2 linked regions of the Homo sapiens genome follow. The protein of the gene in region 1 purifies or fractionates together with the protein of each later gene. This does not show direct contact. Each region holds a gene or a part of one and is shown in the gene's direction. Other genes may lie near its edges. The genes, in order: ZFAND4 and A2ML1.

What was found.
Region 2: the proteins of ZFAND4 (region 1) and A2ML1 purify together in Homo sapiens (affinity purification with mass spectrometry; 2 studies listed by BioGRID and IntAct, with this or other methods). This does not show direct contact.

What each region holds. Positions count from the first base shown.
Region 1 is NC_000010.11:45,671,240-45,675,153, reverse strand, and holds the start of ZFAND4 (AN1-type zinc finger protein 4), read left to right. Parts: upstream 1-2,381; 5' UTR 2,382-2,904; exon of another isoform or gene 2,905-3,091; coding exon of another isoform or gene 3,092-3,142; intron 3,143-3,914.
Region 2 is NC_000012.12:8,820,817-8,824,730, forward strand, and holds the start of A2ML1 (alpha-2-macroglobulin-like protein 1 isoform 1 precursor), read left to right. Parts: upstream 1-1,804; 5' UTR 1,805-1,835; coding exon 1,836-1,897; intron 1,898-2,365; coding exon 2,366-2,549; intron 2,550-2,903; coding exon 2,904-3,066; intron 3,067-3,914. UniProt on the Homo sapiens protein: Is able to inhibit all four classes of proteinases by a unique 'trapping' mechanism. This protein has a peptide stretch, called the 'bait region' which contains specific cleavage sites for different proteinases.

The sequences.
Region 1 (3,914 bases):
GTTCGCTGACCATTGCTCTAAGGCATTCTGTTCCATTCTTGCCTTGTGGAAGCAGCAGAATGAACCTAGGTAATAGCCGGGGGAAGTGCTGAGGATAGAAATGTCAGCCTCTAGAGCAGCACTGCCCCATAGAACTCTGCAGGAATGAAAATTTTCTTTATCTGCATCGTCAAAGGCAGTAGCCACTAGCCACCTGGATGGCTGACCCCATTCTAGTCTGTGTTTTTTGGTGCTCTGTCGTCTTGCTGCTGACTATTCAGCCTGTCACCATGGTGCAGTCTTGTAGGCCGCCCAGGTTGGTCTCAGCGATCCTGGAGCTACTGACTTCTTCCTTGGGCACTGTAAGATCAGACAGGGAATTACTCATACCCAGAGTCAAAGATTTTGTTCAGCTCCCACAGGTCAACCATTTGCCCAAGTCTGCTGTGAGAGTGACGTGATGACAGATGAGGGCACTTGCTAGTTGGCCACTCCTTTCCCCTATTCATTTTATGCATCTTCCTTCTGTCCGTAGGTTATTTGTGCACATAGTTTCTTGCTGTAGTACCCAATGTCGGTCAGAGTCAGCATTTGTTAAATACGATGATTTTCTTTTGGAACAACTAAATCTACTCATCAATCAGTAGGATTGGTTTCAGGGGATTCAGGAGACAACAGGTTTAGAAAATACGCAAGCTGCTATTTTGAGAGGCTTGAAAGGGAGAGAGAACTTACGTTAAAAAAAAGTTCCTATGGTAACAACTTTTAATGCTATTTTATTCAGTCTCCATGGTCTATCAGATAGGTAATGTAGTAACACTAATTTTACAGATAAAGCTAAAATCTGGAAGCAATGTGGAATAATGGAACAAGGTTGGATTTTTGTATTGTGTCCTAGTTTAAATATGGCTTTCCGACATAGAGCTGTTTGATTATAGGTAAATTGTTCTACTTTAATTGGCTTTTGTTTACTCCTTTGTAGACGAGGGATTTCACTACCAACTTTGCAGGATTGTGATGGGGAGAGAATACGTAAAGACCCTTATCAACTATCTGGCACTTGAAGAATGGCAGATGATAATGATGATGATGTTGTAAAGAATGAATGACTTGGCCAGGTAATGGAGCTTCTGGTATTGGGAGGCAAGGCTTTAAACACACCTGCCTGACTCCACGGTCCATGCTGTCAATTCTCCAGTGTGAATGAAGTGGGCAGGCAAGGGTGAGAAACGCTAAGGTTTTTACTCAGTAAGTCTCCATCACAGGCCCTATTCTAGGCTCAGGAATGCAAAGATGATTACCATCATAGCTCTGTCCTCAAAGGTCTCCAATCTATTTAGCATTAAGCATATGTGGAGTTTCAGAAGGAACCAACGGCGAGACTGGTGAATCAATGCCCAGTGCCTCACCATACTCCCCCAGTGTATGCTCAATAGTTCGTTGAACTGTGGAGATAAGTTGGTGGGTAGGGTCTCAGAAGAATGAGAGAGGACAGGAGACACAGATTAGATGTTTAGTTTCATATTAGACTGGCTCCTCTGAGCCAGAAGTCGAGGATGAGTGAACCCGCAGTGGGAGTGAGATGACATTCTTTGTCAGCTGAGTAACCCACTTAGTGAAGGAGGTTCACGGAGTTGGAAAATCGGTAGGGGGAACGGAACGAGGCAGTGGGCTCCCATGTTAGGTTGAAAGGCAGGTGTTGGCTTGAAGCCAGTTACTGTTTACACCGCAGCTCAGCAGCTTGGAAACTGGAGCAGGAGGTGTGGCTGGGCTTACCCAACGCTGGGATTTGAGCCCAGGGTGCCTACTCCATTGCCTGGCCTACAGTTCTCAGTAAATTGTATGAGGACTACAGAAAGTTATCTGTTTTCGCCTTTGTCTTCAAGCAGGCACGGTAATGCCCCCATTTTCCAGATGAGGCAATTGAGGCCAGAAACATTAGGGGACGGTGAAGCCTAAAGCAGATTTGTTAGGACAGGCCGGCCCAAACGCACCAGGAGCGCCCCTCACTCTGGAGAGGCCACCGACTGGACAGCGTCTGCCTGTATCGCCTATCTCCAGCAAATCAGGCGCCTGGAAGAGGATCCCCGGTGGGTCTCACGGAGGGCGGCTCCGGCTTCAACCCCGCCGTTCCCAGCAGGCCATGCGGCTGCCCTCCAGACGCCCGCGTGGGCACGAGTCAGGGGTCCAGTGTTGCTAGTAATAAAAGATCAACATCCGGGCCTCGTAACTCACAACCTCCAGCGAATGCCAAGAAGGCCCCAGGGCCCTGGCGCCCCGGCAACCGCCCACGTCCGGGGGCCAGGCCTGCCCCCGCCCGCGCTGATTGGAGGGCAGCGAAAGCGCCGTCCAGCGATTGGTAGGTGGTGTCACAAAGGGGCGGGGCGCGGCGGCAGCGGAGCGTTGTCGGCCAGTGCCTTCCGTGAAGTTGCTCGCCGGGTCGTTGGGCCCTGTCGACCTGTAGGCGGGCGAGCGAGCCAGCGGACAAGACTGCGGGTGAGGCTGAGCTAGCGAGCGGCCGGCAGGGGGGGCGCCCGGGCTGCGAGCCGCTGAGCCCAGCCGCGCTGCCGCCGCCGGCCGTCGTGGGGCCGGAATGGCGCAAGGCCGGAGTGGCGCGGGCGCTCGGCGCTGGGCTGCCGGGTAGAGTCCTGTCCCCGCCCCTCGCCTTGCGGCCTGACGCCGGCCGCTGCTGCCCGGGGACCGGAGCGGCGGGCCGCCTTTGCCCAGGACACACGCTCTGGCGTTTGTTCCTTTGGGCGTGACGCCAGCTTCAACGGGTACGCGGCTTTCCCGACGGGTGCTGATCTCCGAGTCGCTGTTGTCACGCGGACTGCTGTCCTCCAGATTCAGGCCGGTGGGTCTGGGGAGCCCGGATTGGTCTTGGAGGAGCAACGGCTGCGCAGGTGACTCGGTGGCCTCAAGTGTGTAGGTACCTGGATGGCGCGAGGAGATGCTGGCTCTGAAATACTTCCCAATTCCGCTTGCAGATGAACTCCGGACTAGAGTTTAGGCTACAGACAAGTTAGGCGGTTGATGTGATTCTGTAGCTCGTATTTCGAACTTTAGGGATGTTTTGATGTATCAGTAAATGTAGATCTGTGTCACAGTTTTAATGGCAGCTTCACATTCCGGATATCTTTATGTTGGGGAAAATGTTTCAAAGGTAACTGCTCTTCTGTAGCTAAGCTTCTTTAGAGCAGAGGTTGGAGAAAATTCTGAGTTACTGAAATTACGTATTCAGCGCTATTGCCTGTTTACCTTTAACTTCCATTTCATCCTTGGAGTTGTGTTTTTAGAAACTTTTCAGAAGAAATGAGAGAAATGCTTTGGGAATTGATTTTTTTTTTTTTTTTAAGTTCTAGGGTACATGTGCACAACGTGCAGGTTTGGTACATAGCTATACATGTGCCATGTTGGTTTTCTGCACCGACTAACTCGTCATTTATATTGCGTATTTCTCTTAATGCTATCCCTCCCCCCATCTCACTCCCCACGACAGGCCCCAGTGTGTGATGTTCCCCTCCCTGTGTCCAAGTGTTCTCATTGTTGAGTTCCCATCTATGAGTGAGAACATGGCGGTGTTTGGTTTTCTGTCCTTGTGACAGTTTGCTGAGAATGATGGTTTCCAGCTTCATCCATGTCCATGCAAAGGACATGAACTCATCCTTTTTTTATGGCTGCATAGTATTCCATGGTGTATATGTGCCACATATTCTTAATCCACTCTATCACTGATGGACATTTGGGTTGGTTCCAAGTCTTTGCTGTTGTGAATTGTGCCACAGTAAACATACGTGTGCATGTGTCTTTATAGTGGCATGATTTATAATCCTTTGGGTATATACCCAGTAATGGGATCGCTGGGTCAAATGGTATTTCTAGTTCTAGATCCTTGAGGAATTGCCACACTGTTTTCCACAACGGTTGAACTAATT
Region 2 (3,914 bases), on another chromosome or scaffold:
CTAAGATCAGTAATTGAGTTATTTTGCAGGCCCTGCACTCCATGGGATCAGCTGACACCACACAGACCAGTCATCTGGCCCAACCAGTTCTGCCATCTCACCCAGGAACAGAAGACATTAAGAAAATCTAACTTCGACCCTCTATGATTCCATCTCCAACCTGAGCAATCAGCACTCCCCACTTCCCAAGCCCCTACCTGCCAAATTATCTTTAAAAACTCTGATCCACGAAGGCTCAAGGATTTAAGTAATAATAAAACTCCAGTCTCCCACACAGCCGGCTCTGCGTGAATTACTCTTTTGCCATTGCAGTTCCCCTGTCTTGATAAATCGGCTCTGTCTAGGCAGCAAGCAAGGTGAATCCATTGGGTGGTTACAAAACGGGGTCTCACTATGTTGCCCAGGCTGGTCTCAAACTCTTGGGCTCAAGCAATCCTCCAGCTTCTGACTCCCAAAAGCTGGGATTATAGGCATGAGCCACTGCACTTAGACTAATTTATATTTTAGGTGACTTCTAAGTATTACCATCATAAAGAACACTGTGGGCTGGGCACGGTGGCTCATACCTGTAATCCCAGCACTTTGGGAGGCTGAGGTGGTCCCTGGAGCTCAGGAGTTCGAGACTAGCCTGGGCAACATGGTGAAACCCTGTCTCTATTAAAAATACAAAACAATTAGCCAGGAGTGTTGGTGCCTACCTGTGGTCCCAGCTACTCAGGAGGTGGAGGTGGGAGGATCGCTTGAGCCCAGGAGGTCAAAGCTGCAGTGGGCTGAGATTGTGCCACTGCACTCCAGCCTGGGTGATAAAGTGAGACTCTACTTCAAAAAAATAAAAAATAAAGAAAAGAAAAAAAAGAAAGAACAGTGTGAAAAAACTCAGTGTTACACTTGTGCATACATGCATGCTGTCCTTTTTTTCCTCATTAAGAAACATTTCCAGAGTAGGAGTTGCTGAGTGAAAGAATATGCAAATCTCAAAGGCTTTGGTGTGTATTACAAAATTGCCATGAGAAAGTTATCCACATTCTATTTTCTCTAGGACTGTGTGTGTCCCTATTTCCATACAGTCACAACAATACTGAGTAGTATTAATTTTTTTTTTTTTTGAGACAGAGTCTCGTTGTGTCACCCACGCTGGAGTAAAGTGGCATGATCTCGGCTCACTGCAACCTCCACCTCCCGGGTTCAAGCGATTCTCCTGCCTCAGCCTCCCAAGTAGCTGGGACTATAGGCACCCACCACTATGCCCAGCTGATTTTTTTTTCTTTGTATTTTTAGTAGAGACAGGGTTTCACTATGTTGGCCAGGCTGGTCTTGAACTCCTGACCTGGTGATCTGCCCACCTCAACCCCCCAAAGTGCTGGGATTACAGGCGTGAGCCACTGTGACCGGCCAAGTTTACTGCTTTTCTATTGAAACTGTTCTCATACCCGTGTTCCCAACTACACCTTAATTGAATAATAAAAGAAAATAAGGACATTAAATGAGAACAGGAATTGGAATGAGACCAGAAAAAAAGGGAGGAGTTCAAAATATGTTCTGAGAGCTTTACCATTATGAATACTCAGCTCTGGTTTTCCCCCAAAACTGGCTGAACCAGTATGGATGTTCCAGGCAGAAACAACTTTAAAGAAGTGAATAGTGGCCCTACCCTGGTCCACCACCTAACCTGGTGGTTACAGAAGGAGGAACACAGTCCTCCTGTGTTCCAGGTGCCAGGAGGTGACTGACTATAGCATCAGTCATCACTGCACACCCTACCTGGAATTAGTATATAAAGCTACGCGGAGCGATCTCTGCCCCTGACCCTGGAAAAATCTGTCTCACCCACAAAGATGTGGGCTCAGCTCCTTCTAGGAATGTTGGCCCTATCACCAGCCATTGCAGAAGAACTTCCGTGAGTGCTTGGTGTCAGAATTGGTTTATTAGGGCAGCGGCTTCTTCGCCTAACTTTCTCAAACATTTATATGGAGATGGGGAGATCAACTTTGGTTTATCTTAATTTCCTCCTCCTTTTTTCTCTTCTTTGGTTCCACTGATCCTTTACCCAGAGAGGGAGGCTGACGCATGAAGAGGAAGCTTTAAAAAAGATAAATATTAAAATGTGCCCTGTTTTCTGAAATAGGCCTAATTTCCTCCTTGGTGCTCTAGGCATGTGTGCTCGGTGAGGGCCTCCTGATGGCGGAAGTTGAAGACTGTGCACTGAGTCGTTGCCCCTCTGCTTCTTGTAGAAAATGAGGTGCATAAGGAAGGCAGGGGCTTGGTCTGTCTAATTCACTGCTACTTGCTGAGCGCTTAGGAGAGTGCTGGATTTTTCGAGTGAATGAATCATTATTGCCCTGAAATCCTTCTGCTCCTTTAATAGAAACTACCTGGTGACATTACCAGCCCGGCTAAATTTCCCCTCCGTTCAGAAGGTTTGTTTGGACCTGAGCCCTGGGTACAGTGATGTTAAATTCACGGTTACTCTGGAGACCAAGGACAAGACCCAGAAGTTGCTAGAATACTCTGGACTGAAGAAGAGGCACTTACATTGTATCTCCTTTCTTGTAAGCACAGACTCAGCCCTCACTCGAATCCCTTACTTGCCTATTCTCCTCCCTAGGCTCACTATAATCTACTTTAAGTATAATTTCTGTTATCTTTTGCCACGGCCTCTAAACCTATTTTTTCTCAACTTAACCTCAATCCCCGGCTATAACTCACCCACGGTTTCCTCGACCTAGGATTTCTCCCTTTAGTTCCTGACCTTAATTCTTCCTCGTGGTAATTTGTTTTATGTCTCTATCCTTGCTACCCCCATCTAACTCAGCTCTTTCCTTTAACTCACTGTTGGGTTGAGACCAGTTGATTCTGTTCCCCCAATCCCTTACCCCTCCCCAGAAGTCCCCTTTCTTGGTCAGGTACCACCTCCTGCTGGTGGCACAGAAGAAGTGGCCACAATCCGGGTGTCGGGAGTTGGAAATAACATCAGCTTTGAGGAGAAGAAAAAGGTTCTAATTCAGAGGCAGGGGAACGGCACCTTTGTACAGACTGACAAACCTCTCTACACCCCAGGGCAGCAAGGTAAGAGTCACATATTTGGGGTTCGACTAAAACCTGGGGAAACCGCTGTGCACAGGGGTAAAGAGGGGATTTGTGGTTTGACAGTAGGCTTTGGAAAAAAAGGAGTGCAGAGGAGAGGAAAATCTGGGGGGATTAAGTAGTGCAAGTGTTGAATACATGCTGCGCTACACAAGCAAGAGAAGTAGGTGGGGGTTGCTACTGAGTTTGTGTATCTAAAACAAAAGTACACATTTCTTCTGGAATAGAATTTGGCAAGTATAACTGGGTTGCTGGGCCTTACAACAAACTGCTTGTAAATGGCTAAGAAAGCACTGAGGGCATTTGGCTTGAGCTACTGGGGTTTTTTTTTTTTTTTTTTTTTTTTTTTGTATTTGTTCATTCGTCCTTACAGGGGCACTTCATTCTGAGATTTCAAAGTCAGGCACCCTGAAAAGAAACTATGTTTGGGTTTTTTTTATTTTTTTATTTAAAATTTTTGTGGGTACATAGCTGGTGTATATATATTTATGGGGTAGATGAGATATTTTTATACACACACACAATGTGTAATCATTACATCAGGGTACATGTGTATCCATCACCTCAAGCATTTATCATTTCCTTGTATTACAAACAATCCAATTATACTCTCTTAGTAATTTTTAAATGTGCAATAAATTATTGTTGACTGTAGTCACTCTTTGTGCTAAAAACTACAAGATCCCTAGATCTTATTCATTCTAGCTAAATATATTTTTGTACCCATTAACCATTCCCACCCCACCCCTCATCCTGCCCACCATTACCCTTCCCAGCATCTGGTAACCATCATTCTGTTCTCTCTCTCTCTTTCAAAAAAATTTTTTTCC